3 separate regions of the Homo sapiens genome follow, and regions 2 and 3 are each linked to region 1. The links come from fine-mapping of genetic effects on gene expression. A gene starts in region 1. Each other region holds a variant in brackets. All regions are shown on one strand. Distances are from middle to middle. Region 1 holds the start of NCAPG2 (non-SMC condensin II complex subunit G2). Region 2 overlaps NCAPG2 (non-SMC condensin II complex subunit G2). Region 3 overlaps ESYT2 (extended synaptotagmin 2).

Region 1 (4,241 bases):
GGGGCTCTGTGGCTCCTGGCATCTGTGAGCTTTCGGGTGCCACCATGTTCCCCTTGTCCAGATGCTGATGCCTGCAGTGGAAGCCACTTGTGGTACCTCTGGTCCAGCCACAGCCTTGCATGGAGCCGGCAGCTGTGCAGGCACCTAGAGCTGCCTGCTCCACCACAGCAGCTGCATGGCTGGGTGTGCGCAGTGGTTGGACCCCATGCTCGCTTGCTCACATACCCCTTGCCGCTCTGCACCTGGCTCACCCTTGGCAGGCGTGGGATCTGGGTTGGTAGTGCAAGCCGAGTGCAACCTGCTGGGCTGAGTGGGCTCGAGCAAAACTCTAGCAGAGGCACCGCTGGCCACGGAGGTTTCTAGCTGGTGAAGCGATACCCAAAGGATCCTATGACATTAGTGGCTGCATGGGCAGGTGCATTGGGGGTGCACTGGGCGCTCCTGCTGCCCTGCTTCCACGTGCCTCTGAGCACTGCACTACATAGACATTTAGGCCTCATAACAACCCCCTAGAGGAGGCTGAGCTCTGCATTATACAGACATTTAGGCCTCATAACAACCCCCTAGAGGAGGCTCAGTACTTAAGTAGGTCCCATTTGATAGATGAGGAAACTGAGGCTCAGTCGTCCATGGCTTGTCAAAGGTCACCAGCTAGTGAGCACAGAACCAGGTTAGCCCAGGTGGTACAGCTTCAGAGCTCACATGCGTAACTTGTTACATTATTCCTACTCAGGAAGTGGAAACCCCAGGAACAGATGGCTGATTGGAGGAGGGACCAGCATAAGGAAAGGGGCAGGATTCAGGGGTGGGAGGGGAAGTCGATATCTGTTTTGGATGCATGTCAGCACCAGCGTGGGAGTAGGCAGTGAGCTGTTGAAAATTCTGGAGTTCAGAAATAACCGTGTCTTGCAAATCCAGATGCAGAGGTCACTGCTTGAAGGTGGCAGTTTGCACCTTGGATATGAAGGAAATTGCTAAGAAGAAAGCAGTGAGAAGATGAGGGCACCAAAATTCAAGAAATGGCAGGGAAGGATCTGTGTATGGAGGGAGGAGGAGGTCAGAGGTGGCTGGAGCCCCAGGATGAAATAGGCAATGTTAGATATCGGCCACCTGTTGACAAGGGTCCCAGACTCAGCATCCTCTGAGTGGGTCTTCTCCCTCCCCTCTGCAGCCTGCCTTGCTTCACTGTTGCAAGCTTCCTAGTAAACCAGTCTTCTCCCTGCTATAATTTTATATTGCTTGTTGAAACGATATTCCAACAAGTAACATAAATATTTTTGATATACTAGGCTAAATAAAACATATTTAAAAATTAATGTCACCTATTTATCTTCATTTTTCTAATGTGGTCACTAGAAATTTACAAGTGCACTTGTGGCTCCCATGATGTTCCTATTGGTTGGTGCTGTGCTCCCACAGTGCAACGACTTCAATCTCGCCAAGACCTCTGGCTTGAGTTAAGCCAGGAAAACAGATACCACTCTAGACATCTCAAGCATGAAAGAATATAGCTCCAGGGAAGGCCAAGTCCTCACGAAGGGATGCAGAGCTCGGTGGTAAAGAGCACCGTTTTCTAAGAATTTGCTTTCAACAAAAATTGGGAACGCCCAATCAAGTTATTCGCTGACACAAATTAAAAGAGATTGATACATCAGTATGTGATTTTGGCATTTAAGTCCAAAGAATTGAATGACATTGCTACTCCTCCTTCACACGGGTGCCTCCGAGGGTCCCCGCTAAGGCCTCTCCCTCTCCACCCTATGGGCAGCTGACCTGCCGGGGGCCTCACCTGCTGGAGGAGCAACTGCAGGAGAAGCACCTGTTAGGGGCCGCACCTGGCCGGAGGGGCTCCTGCGGGGGAAGCACCTGCCCAGGGTGCACCTACCGTGTGCAGGCTGCGGACCACCCGGACAGGTGCCCCCTCGGCAGGGAGGGCGGTCACGGGGGCCGGCCAGGTCGGGGTGGGGTCCTCCCGGGGATCCAGACACGGCCCTGTGGCCTCTCCCCGCCCCAAGCCTTTCCTTTCTCTCCCCCTCTCTCTCTTCCTCTCCTTCCTCCTTCCCACAACACCGCCCGCTCGCAGCGCCCCGCCCTCTCCTGGACCGCGCACTCCCTCCGCGGAGGCCCCAGGACGCGCACGAGCGCGCAGTGGACGTCGGCGCGCGGACCGGGCATGGGTTCCCCAGCTGTGGCGCCCCGCGTGCGCGTTCCGTAGTGCCCGGTAGGGCACTGGGCTTAGCTGCTCGAGGCCGCGCCCTAAGAGGCGGGGCATAGACAGGAAGAAGACTGGCGGGCATGTGGGCGGGGCATGATCTGGAGGCGGGGCGGGCCGGGCGTGTGGGCGAGGCCCGAGGCTCGCGGCGCCCCAGCTCTCGCGAGAGCGGCGCCTGATGACGACCGGGAGGGCGGGGCCCGTCTGGGGCGCCGGCGGGTGCGTTTGAATCTGGTCCGAGCGCGGGAAACGGCGGGTCCCCGAGCCCAGGTAAGAGCTGCGGTGCCGAGCCGGGATTGGGTTCAGAGCAGGGGCTGGGAAGTAGCAGGGATCGGGCGGGAAGCCCCTCCTCGGCTGGTCGGGGTCCCAGCCTCCCCTCCCCTAAGGAGGCGGCCGACCTGCGTGCGGGCAGTGCTGCCTCTGACGGAACTGGACGGAACTGGCGACCCCGGGCCATCCCCCCTACCCAGCTCAGCGACGCCCGTCCTTCTTGTCCGTGTCGGAGGAAAATCCCAGCCCCGGGCGCGGGCACTGCCCTCAGAGAGCGACCCCCCAGCCCTGAGCATGGGCACCGTCCTCAGAGAGTGTCCCCTCAGTCCTGGGCATGGGCACTGCCCTCAGAGAGCGACCTCCTCTGTCCTGGGCATGGGAACTGCCCTCAGAGAGTGTCCCCTCAGTCCTGGGCATGGGCACTACCCTCAGAGAGCGACCCCCTCAGTCCTGAGCATGGGCACTGCCCTCAGAGAGCGTCCCCTCAGTCCTGGGCATGGGCACTACCCTCAGAGAGCGACCCCCTCAGTCCTGAGCATGGGCACTGCCCTCAGAGAGCGACCCCCTCAGTCCTGGGCATGGGCACTGCCCTCAGAGAGCGTCCCCTCAGTCCTGGGCATGGGCACTACCCTCAGAGAGCGACCCCCTCAGTCCTGAGCATGGGCACTGCCCTCAGAGAGCGTCCCCTCAGTCCTGGGCATGGGCACTGCCCTCAGAGAGCGACCCCCTCTGTCCTGGGCATGGGAACTGCCCTCAGAGAGAGTCCCCTCAGTCCTGGGTGTCGGTACTGCCCTTAGAGAGAGTCCCCCTGAGCCCTGGGTGTAGGCACTGCCCTCAGAGAGTATCTCCCCAGCTGTGGACGTGGGCATTGTCCTCAGAGACATCAGTCTCCTGAACTCTTGTTGCTGGTTTGGTGCCTCTTGTTGTGTCCATGAGGAAGGAGTTTGGGGACGGAGTGGGAAGTCACAGGTGGTGAGAAGGTAACAGGGATTTCTTCTTTTTAATGCTCATCTTGATTTAGTACCAGACCTCCTGTGCGAAGAGTAACCTGCTCTTCGGACTGATAACTGGATGGTGAGATGACTCCTTACCTTGAAAGTAGCATTCTGGCTGCAGGGCTGAGGTCTTATGCACATATGGTACAAGAAACATGGAATATTGCCACTTTGGGAGATAGATTGAAAAATTAACCATTAAAAAATTACAGTCACTAATATAAGAGGGAAAATGGGAAATATAGGAATAAGTTTGGTAGTCTAGAGGAAGTGTATTACTGTAAGTTGGACTAACATGCCAAAGAGGTACACTTGGAAATAGAGCAAACAAGAAAAGTGACCAGAACTATGAAAAAGTGGAGAGTGTTCACAGACTTGCCGGGCGAAGATGTATGATTCCATGTGTTTGCTGCACCTTATTGGATTATTTTTCTAAAATCATGAATTTGTCCTAGCCACTATTCATTATGCTTGTTACTGGCCACTCTCCCTTCCCTCCCCATTTTCTTTGTCAGTGAAAAATGTGCCAGTCATGCTTGATTTAAAGAGGGAGACACGTTGTCGTTAGGCAATTTCATCATTGCATGAACATCACAGAGTGGACTTGCCTACACCTAGAGGTGTAGCCTACACACATAGGCTGTATGGTGTAGCCTACTGCTCCTAGAATGTTACTGTACTGAATACTGTAGGCAACTGTAATACAATGGCAAGTATTTGCATCGCTAAACATATCTAAGCATAGAAAAAGCACAGTAAAAATA
Region 2 (4,241 bases), 21 kb after region 1:
TTGTGGGAGGTAGGACTGTGCTCTTTCAGCTGGGAGGGAGCTCTGACCCTGATCTTTCCAGCCATGTGCTCACTGGGCATTTGGAACGTGGCCAGTCTGAATCAAGATGTGTTGTAAGTGTAAGAAACATACCAGATTTCAAAGACTTCATATGGAAATGAGAATATAAAATATCTCAGTACTTTTTAAAAATGTTGAGTGAATGTTGAAATGTTAGTGGTTTGGATGTATTAGGCGAAATGTGGTAGTTGGCCCTTTGTGGGTTTCGCATCCATGGATTCAATCAACCAAGGATCGAAAATATTTGGGAAAAAAATGCATTGTACTTAACATGTACAGACTTTTTTTTCCTTGTCATCAGTCCCTACACATATAGTGTCACAACTATTTCCATAACATTGACACTGTATTAAGTATTATAAGTAATCTAGAGATGATTTAAAGTGTGCAGGAGTGCATAGGTTATATGCAGATACTACTCCACTTTATATGAGGAATTTGAGCATCCGCAGATTCTGGTCTCTGAGGGAGGTCCTAGAACTGATCCCCCATGGATACCAAGGGATGACTGTGTAATATTGAAGTAATTTTACCTGTTTCTTTTGTCTGTTTTTAATGCAGCCACTAGAAAATTTAAAATTGCATCTGTGGCTTGCATTCAGTTTCTATTGGATAGTGCCGTTCAGGGACTTCAAGTCACCTCTTTTAGTTACATTATTTTTGAGAATTTGAAGATATTTTCTTTGATTATGGGTAACTCTGGTGAATACATAGTATTTATGTTATGAAGATAGGGCTATGTAATCCACAATCCCAACTCAACATCCAGATACCCTTTTGGACAAAAAAGTGTGTTTGTTTTCCCTTATATTTTTCTTATACCAGGTTCTCAATCATTTTATTTTTCTCTGAGAATAAAATTTTTACTCTAGGTCAGAAAGGAGCCTCTCACAACCCTGTGTTCTATCCTGACTTTTCATTCCTCTTTGGAGAGCAGGCCCTGCACTGATGGGCAGAGGGAGGAACCTGCAGAGTGGACAGAGGCTGCCCCATGTCTGGGTTTACTTCCATCCTCTCTGCTCCTCTGCACAACTTACACTTGATTTGTATTGCCAAGGTTTATCACTGACTTCTAGAAAATAAAAAATAGGCTGGGCGTGGTAGCTCACGCCTGTAATCCCAGCACTTTGGGAGGCCGAGGAGGGTGGATCACCTGAGGTCAGGAGTTTGAGACCAGCCTGGCCAACATGGCGAGACCCTGTCTCTACAGAAAAATAAACAAAATAAAAACTATTTGACTAGATGTATACAAAATTGGTATCAACAATGTGTATTTCTCAGTCTCACTCCATTCCTCTCTGCCCTCCCTCTCTTTAAGTTTTTCAGGCAAATTCCAGACCTGACATTTCATTTCTACATACTACTTTATTCATCTCTCAAAAATGTGCTTATGGAATGCCATTGTAAGACCTAAAAATGTGACAGTAAATCCTTGGTATTTTTAAAAATAATCAAGCCACATTAAAATTTTTCCAGTGATCTCAAATGTCTCCTTAGAGTTTTTTTGAATTAGGACTCAACAAGTTGCCCACATGGCATTTGCTTGTTATACCATTAAAATCGCTTATTCTAGAGCATTCCTCCCTCCTTTCCTTTTCTTAAAATCT[A/T]TGCCATTGGCATGTGAGGAAACTGGACCAGTTGTCCTGTAGAATGTTGGCATACTGATAGTTAGCTCTAAAGGTTTGGATTCAACTTTTATGGTACAAATAACTTCCCAGGTAGTGCTGTGTATCTCATCTTTCATTGCAAGTCAGACAATGTGTGGTTGTCCCACATTAAGTGATGCTAAGTGACTTCAGGTGAAGGAAATATTTTCAAATATAATGGGGAAGAGGAACTTGAGCATCTGCAGACTCTGGTTTGTATTAGTATTAACCCTAGGAGCGTTTCCTTAGGTCCTTCCTCAAAGCCACAGAAATCCTGCTCATGTGTGAGGGTGGGCACAGAGTACAGGTACAGACATAGGGTCCACTGGGGTTTTTTGCTACTCTTAGAGGCTAGGCCTTTTCCCAGTTGCTGCACTCTGAGTACCATTAGTGCATGGGGCTGATGAAGGGCTTCCCACACACCTTCCTTGCTCAGCCCTTGTCAACAGTGGCCCTGAAATATCTTATTTACAGTTTCCGCCGTAGAGGTAGTTCTGTTTTTGTTCTGTGGAGGCTGTTGGAACAAATCCAGTCTTCTGAAGGTTGTCCAGGTCAGTGATGAGTCAGAAGAGGGGGCTCCACACTCACCATGCACTCAGTCTCTGAAATTTGTCTGATTTGAACTAGCCTTGAGTGGTAGGTGGAATCTTACATTGCCATTTGGCACAGATTTGATATTTCATCAAATAAAAGAGAAGCAAAGCATTCTCCTTGCTATAAGAAAACCAAAGGGATTCTAAGAAGCATGGACTTAAAATAAGAAAGCTTGGACAAAAGGGTCCAGGTTTTTTTCTCATGAAATATAAGATGGACAGGTCAGACTCTTTGTACTCAAATGCCGCACTGCTTGTCAGGTCGTCAGTAGGACACACACACACCAAGTGCTTTGCATTGCATTTGTTATTTCAGGCGATTGAAAATGATTGCATCCAGGACTTCATGTTCCACGGGATACACCTTCCGAGGAGGTCTCCAGTGCATTCCAAAGTGCGGGAGGTAAGATTGTGAACAGATTGTTTTTGAAATAATGTTTCCTCTGTTTTGTTTTTAGATAATTGTTTTGGTTAAATTTTAAAATTAAGCTTTCACAGACATCAGTTAGGGGGATTTCTCAGAACCTTGATATTTGATGTCTGGCAGTTTTATTCCTGCCACCAAAGTTTTAATGAGGAAAGCAAAGGTGTATTGTTGAGATGGTTAGTATTGTATTTGAATGACCTTAAATTCAATTCTCTGTCTTGAGATTTTCCAGAATTATTGGTTTCTAATGGCCACTATCATTTTTTTCAAAGATCCTAGAGGGTATTTGAAATTATTTTTATTATTTTACTTATTAAATTCCAATTTTGCTCTTCTGCAAACCAAATGAATAAATGTTTTGATTGTTTCTTTTGATATTTTGTTCTGTAAAGGTAATCTCAGAATTTAGATTAATCTCAGAATTTAGATATGAACTTTACCTTTATATTAATAATTGTAAATGGACTGACTAGATAAGATTCTATCATCAGTGCCATTACTACACTGATAGGTGTTTGATGGATCTTAAGGATCCTGGCAGGAGGAATGGGAAAATCTGGTCTGCTGTGTTTATTTAAATTAAGCAGCTGCTGTTGATCAGTGTTCTAACCCATGGGATGCCTTGTTTGCTTGCTGTTAGTTTTGGCAACCATATGTCAAGAAACCAAGTGAATAAAGACTACTCATTTCTTTGTTTTGTTGTAGAGTGAAACTACTGCTATTTATAGAATGTAAATATACTAATTATATTAATTTTGAGTGGATAAGAAAATGTTTCTTTGCATTATTGATGATTTAATTTCAGTTACACAAGGATAAAGAACCCAGAGATTTATCTAGACTACTGAGTTTTCCAGAGGATTTAAAAATCGTGATTGCATATATTTAGGATAAATATATTCAATGAACTCCCTGTCCTACCCACCCCCCACCCCCATCCCAGTGTGGCTTTATTTAGTTGTAGTCAGTTTGGGTTATTTATTTCACATAGATGAGTTGGTGTTTCAAATTTTATTTAGTAGAATTGCATTAAACTATGTATTTATGTAAACTATGTTTATGTAAACTATATGTGTAGTTTATATGTAAACTATGTATGTTTTCATATGTTATTTTTGCTGTGGTAGTCTGAGTAATTAAGATATTATAAGTATAGATATCACTATTTGGTAAATTTATGGAAAAATGCACAAAAAGAATTTAAAGGGAGAATATTAGATTTCACTCAAGTGAAACGTGTTACTCAACTCCAAGTAATTGTTTTTGTCACAACTTATAACACATTATAGTTTCTTCCTCAAATTGTTTTTATTTGATAACTATTAAATTTATCTGATAAGTCATTTTATTGATATTGAAAGAGGTTTCAGGCAGTGCTTCAGACATCATTTGAAATTAAAAATCTCAACATTGTTGATGAAAATGTTCTAGAATTAGACAGTAACAATGGTAGCATAGCTCTAAATATACTGAAAGCCACTGAATTGTATACTTTAAAACAGTAGATTTTGTGGC
Region 3 (4,241 bases), 41 kb before region 1:
CCTTGAAGTTGAGGTATTTTATTTGCATTTTTTAACCAATTTATTGACAAATAATTGACTTTTTAAAGTATACAATTTGCTGAGTTGTGACCCGTGTATACACCTGGGGATCCATCGCCAGAATCAGGACAATTGGTAGATCTCTCTGTAACCCGGGCCTCCCCTAGCCCCAGGCAAACACAGACCTGCCTTTGGTCACTGTAGATTACTGTTCACATTTTCCAGGATTTTATACAAATAGAATTATGCGGTATGTCCTCTAGTTGTCTATATTCTCTGGTGATAATTATTCTGAGGTTTACCTGTGTTGTTGCAGATACCCACAGTTTGTCTTTTTTTATTGTTGAGTAGTAGTTATGGATATACCACAATTTGCTCATCCATTTACCTGTGAGTAAGACATTGATAAAAGATTGGGTTCTTTCCGGTTTAGACCTATTACATATAAATCTGCTGTGAATATCACATACAAGACTGTGTGTACATATGCCTTCATTCTGTTGGGTAAAATGCCCAGGAGCAGGTTGCCAGGTTCATGTTTAGCTTCTTAATAAACTGCCAAATTGTTTTCCAAAGAGATTGTGCCGTGTCACATTCCCACCGAAGTGCATGTGAGTCGAGCGGGCCCCACATCTCGCCAGTGCTGTGGTGTTAGTGGGTAGATAGGAGTATTACCGGGTGGTTTCAGCGTCATTACTAATGACGTTGAGCACCTTTTTATGCTTTTTTACGGTCTTTGTATCTTCTATGGTGAAATGTCTATTCAGTTTTTTTGCCTGTCTTTTTTATTTGGTTATTTGTCTTCTTAATACTGAGTTTGTAAGACGTTTGGGGTTTTTTTTTTAATGTTTCATTCTTTCTGAGATGAAGTCTCACTCTGTCATGGAGGCTGGAGTGCAGTGGTGCGATCTCAGTCACTGCAGCCTCCACCTCCTGGGTTCAAGTGATTCTCTTGCCTCAGCCTCCTGAGAGCTGGGATTACAGGTGCGCGCCACCACACCTGGCTGATTTCTTGTATTTTTAGTGGAGACGGGGTTTCACCATGTTGGCCAGGCTTGGCCTTGAACTCCTGACCTCAGCTGATCCGCCCACTGTGGCCTCCCAACGTGCTGGGATTACAGGCGTGAGCCAACGCACCCCGCCTCTTTGTTTTTGAGAACAGAGTTTCACTCTGTTACCCAGGCTGGAGTGCAGTGGTGTAATCACAGATCACTGCAGCCTCCAACTCCTGGGTTCAAGTGATTCTCTTGCCTCAGCCTCCGGAGTAGCTGGGACTACAGGCAGACACCACCATGCCTGGCTAATTTTTTTATTTTTTGTAGAGAATTATTTTATTTTTTGTAGGGTCTCACAGTGTTGCCCAGACTGGTCGCAGACTCCTGGGCTCGAGCAGCGATGTTCCCACTTCTGCTTCCCCAAGTGCTGGGATTGCAGTTGTGAGCCACGGTGCCCAGCCTCTTTTTCTTAATATGGCTGTGTAGTTGTTCAGCATTTGTGCAGTTGTTCAGTCTTTGTTGAAAAGATTATTATTTGCCCTAATTTATTAGCTTAGCAACTTTCCAGAAATTCAGTTGCCCATATGTATAGGTCTGTTTCTGGAATTCCTTCTGTTCCATTGTTCTATATGTCTGTCTTTATGCCAGTATCACACTGTCTTTATTATTGGTGCTTTATTAATCTTTTTTTTTTTTTTTCTTGAGGCAGGGTCTCACTTTGTCACTCAGGCTGGAGTGCAGTGGTGCAGTCATGGCTCACTGCAGCCTTGACCTCTTAGGCTCAAGCAATCCTCCCGCCTCAGCCTCCCAAGTGGCTGGGACTAGAGGTGCACACCACCACACCCAGCTAATTTTTGTGTTTTGGGTATGTGTGTATGTGTGCCTCAGCCTCCCAAGTGGCTGGGACTACATGTGCATGCCACCATACCCAGCTAATTTTTGTGTGTTGGAGGGGCGTGTGTGTGTGTGTGTGTGTGTGTGTCTATTTATGTATGTAAAGATGCGGTTTCACCACATTGCCCAGGCTGGTCTCGAACTCCTGAGCTCAAGCCATCTATCCACCTTGGCCTCTCAAAGTGCTGGGATTACAGACGTGAGCCATCATGCCTGGCCTGTCTTCTCTCTTCTTCTTCCTAATAAGTCTTACAAGATGTTTATTGATTTTATTTTCTTAACC[A/G]ATTTTTTGTTTAATTGTCATTATTGCTTTTCTTTTACTATTTCATTGATTTCTACTATGATCATTATTATTTCAGTCCCACTTACTTTGGGTCTTTGCTTCTCTTTTTCTAGTTTCTTAAAGAAGAAGCTTGAGACATTTCTGTTTTTATAATGTAGGCATTTACTCCAATAAATTTCACTTTAAATTCTGTAGCTACATCTCACAAATTTTGACTTGTCGTTGATGTCTCCTTTTGATTATTATTATTTCCTTAATTTCCCTTTCAGTTTTTTCCTTTGACCTGTGTATGGGTTATTTTGGTCTGTTATTTAGTTTCCATATGTTTGGGGATTTTTTTTTAATCTTTCTATTATTGATTCCAATTTCATTCCATAGTGGTCAGAGTACATACTTTGTATGACATGAGCCCTTTTATGTTTGAGACCGGCTTTATGGCCCAGAGCACTGCCTGTCCTGGGACACACTCCACGTGCACCTGTAGGCTGTGTGCCTTTCTGGTGTTGGCGAGTGTCTCATGAATGTCAGTAGGTCAGGGTGGTTGGTGGCATTGCCATTGCTCAGGCCCTCTGGGGCCTTACTAGTTCTCAGACTACTTATATCAGGTATGAAGAGCATGGCGTTTAAATCTCTGAATTTATGTTTTTTTCCTCAGCCTCTGTTTTTGCTACTTGTATCTTGAACCTCTCTTGATAGGTGTGTGTGAACAGCCAGGCCTAGGAGACCTGGTCATGCCGCTTGCCCGACCCTGTCTCATTAGATAGGTGAGTGTGAACAGCCGGGCCTAGGAGACCTGGTCATGCCGCTTGCCTGACCCTGTCTCATTAGATAGGTGAGTGTGAACAGCCGGGCCTAGGAGACCTGGTCATGCCGCTTGCCTGACCCTGTCTCATTATTCTGTGTTGGTTGTTTTATTAGGTTGGTGCAAAAGTAATTGGAGTTTTTGCCATTGAAACTGCAATTACTTTTGCCCCAATCTGATACTTTTTTACATTCTGTTTTATACAAAAGGATTTGTGTTTTGTCTAGCTGGTTTTTCCTTCATAAAGTGCACTTCTGTATTCTCAAAATAATCTATGCTTACTGGACCTTGGATTTTAAAAATAATTTTTAAAGTTCCACAAACATTGTCATAGTTATTTCATTTAAAACTGCTTTTGTGATTATAGTTTAGTTTGAAAAGAAATATGCAATCAACCTTTTAGGTTTTCCTGAGTAGTTATGTGTTAATTTCTCTGACCATTTTTGTATAGCCTGAGAAACCTTCAGAGTTCTTACTCTATTTGATTAAATTATTTTATATTACAGCCATCTAACAGGAATAATTCCTGTTGCAGAGATAATGCAGAAGGTTATTATACAGGAAAAAGAGGCTGGGCATGGTGGCTCACACCTGTAATCTCAGTACTTTGGGAGGCTGAGATGAGAGGATCACTTGAGGCCAAGAGTTTGAGAACAGCCTGGGCAACATAGTGAGATCCACCTCTGTTTTTTAAAAAATTTTTAAATGCCTTGCTGTAAATTTTCTTTAATGTGGATTTTGAATGGAGAAGGCTTAAAAGGTACTTAGAAATGTATTGTCTCCATAAATGTCATGAATGGAAACTGTATACATCGTTATGAGTGTGTATTGCCACCATTTTCCCAGGGGTTAAAAGACAGGTAGACTATTGCCTATTAACCCAGGGTTCTCCGAACCGATTGGTCATTATTGTCATTACTGCTTTTCTCATTTGTCATTATTACATCATTTCTTTCTGTGCTCATTGTAATCTATAATGACGAAATAGCAGATCTTTTGCTTGTTAACAGTGTTTTGTGTCTTTGTTAGGAGATTTCATACCATGTTAATCATTATGGAAACACTACTTAAGAGAATATGGCTGAAATATGTTTGGGTTTTTAAAAATATCTTTCTTACAGACTAATATTGTCTGTGGACCTTTCTACATTTGTTTGTTTGTTTTTGAAACAGTTTTGTCACCCAGGCTGGAGTGCAGTGGCGCGATATCAGCTCACTGCAGCCGCCTCCTCCCAGGTTCAAGCGATTCTCATGCCTCAGCCTCTTG

What was found. PIP is the estimated chance that this variant, and not a neighbour inherited with it, causes the effect.
Region 2: its variant is the best candidate, but not a certain one, in a credible set for the expression of NCAPG2 in whole blood (TOPMed, PIP 0.76).
Region 3: its variant is the best candidate, but not a certain one, in a credible set for the expression of NCAPG2 in whole blood (TOPMed, PIP 0.62).

The regions. Positions count from the first base shown.
Region 1 is chr7:158,702,965-158,707,205 of GRCh38, reverse strand. NCAPG2 (non-SMC condensin II complex subunit G2) reads left to right here and starts at 2,402. Exons shown (of 28, transcript NM_017760.7): 1 at 2,402-2,482. RefSeq lists silencers at 1,746-2,025, 2,146-2,235, 2,386-2,485 and an enhancer at 3,063-3,641.
Region 2 is chr7:158,681,761-158,686,001 of GRCh38, reverse strand. NCAPG2 (non-SMC condensin II complex subunit G2) reads left to right here. Exons shown (of 28, transcript NM_017760.7): 9 at 2,616-2,702. Among named protein-coding and RNA genes, the nearest start is that of NCAPG2, 21 kb to the left of the region's middle. The variant A/T (reference allele first, on the strand shown) is at 1,668.
Region 3 is chr7:158,743,966-158,748,206 of GRCh38, reverse strand. ESYT2 (extended synaptotagmin 2) reads left to right here. Exons shown (of 23, transcript NM_001367773.1): 16 at 1-13. Among named protein-coding and RNA genes, the nearest start is that of NCAPG2, 41 kb to the right of the region's middle. The variant A/G (reference allele first, on the strand shown) is at 2,173.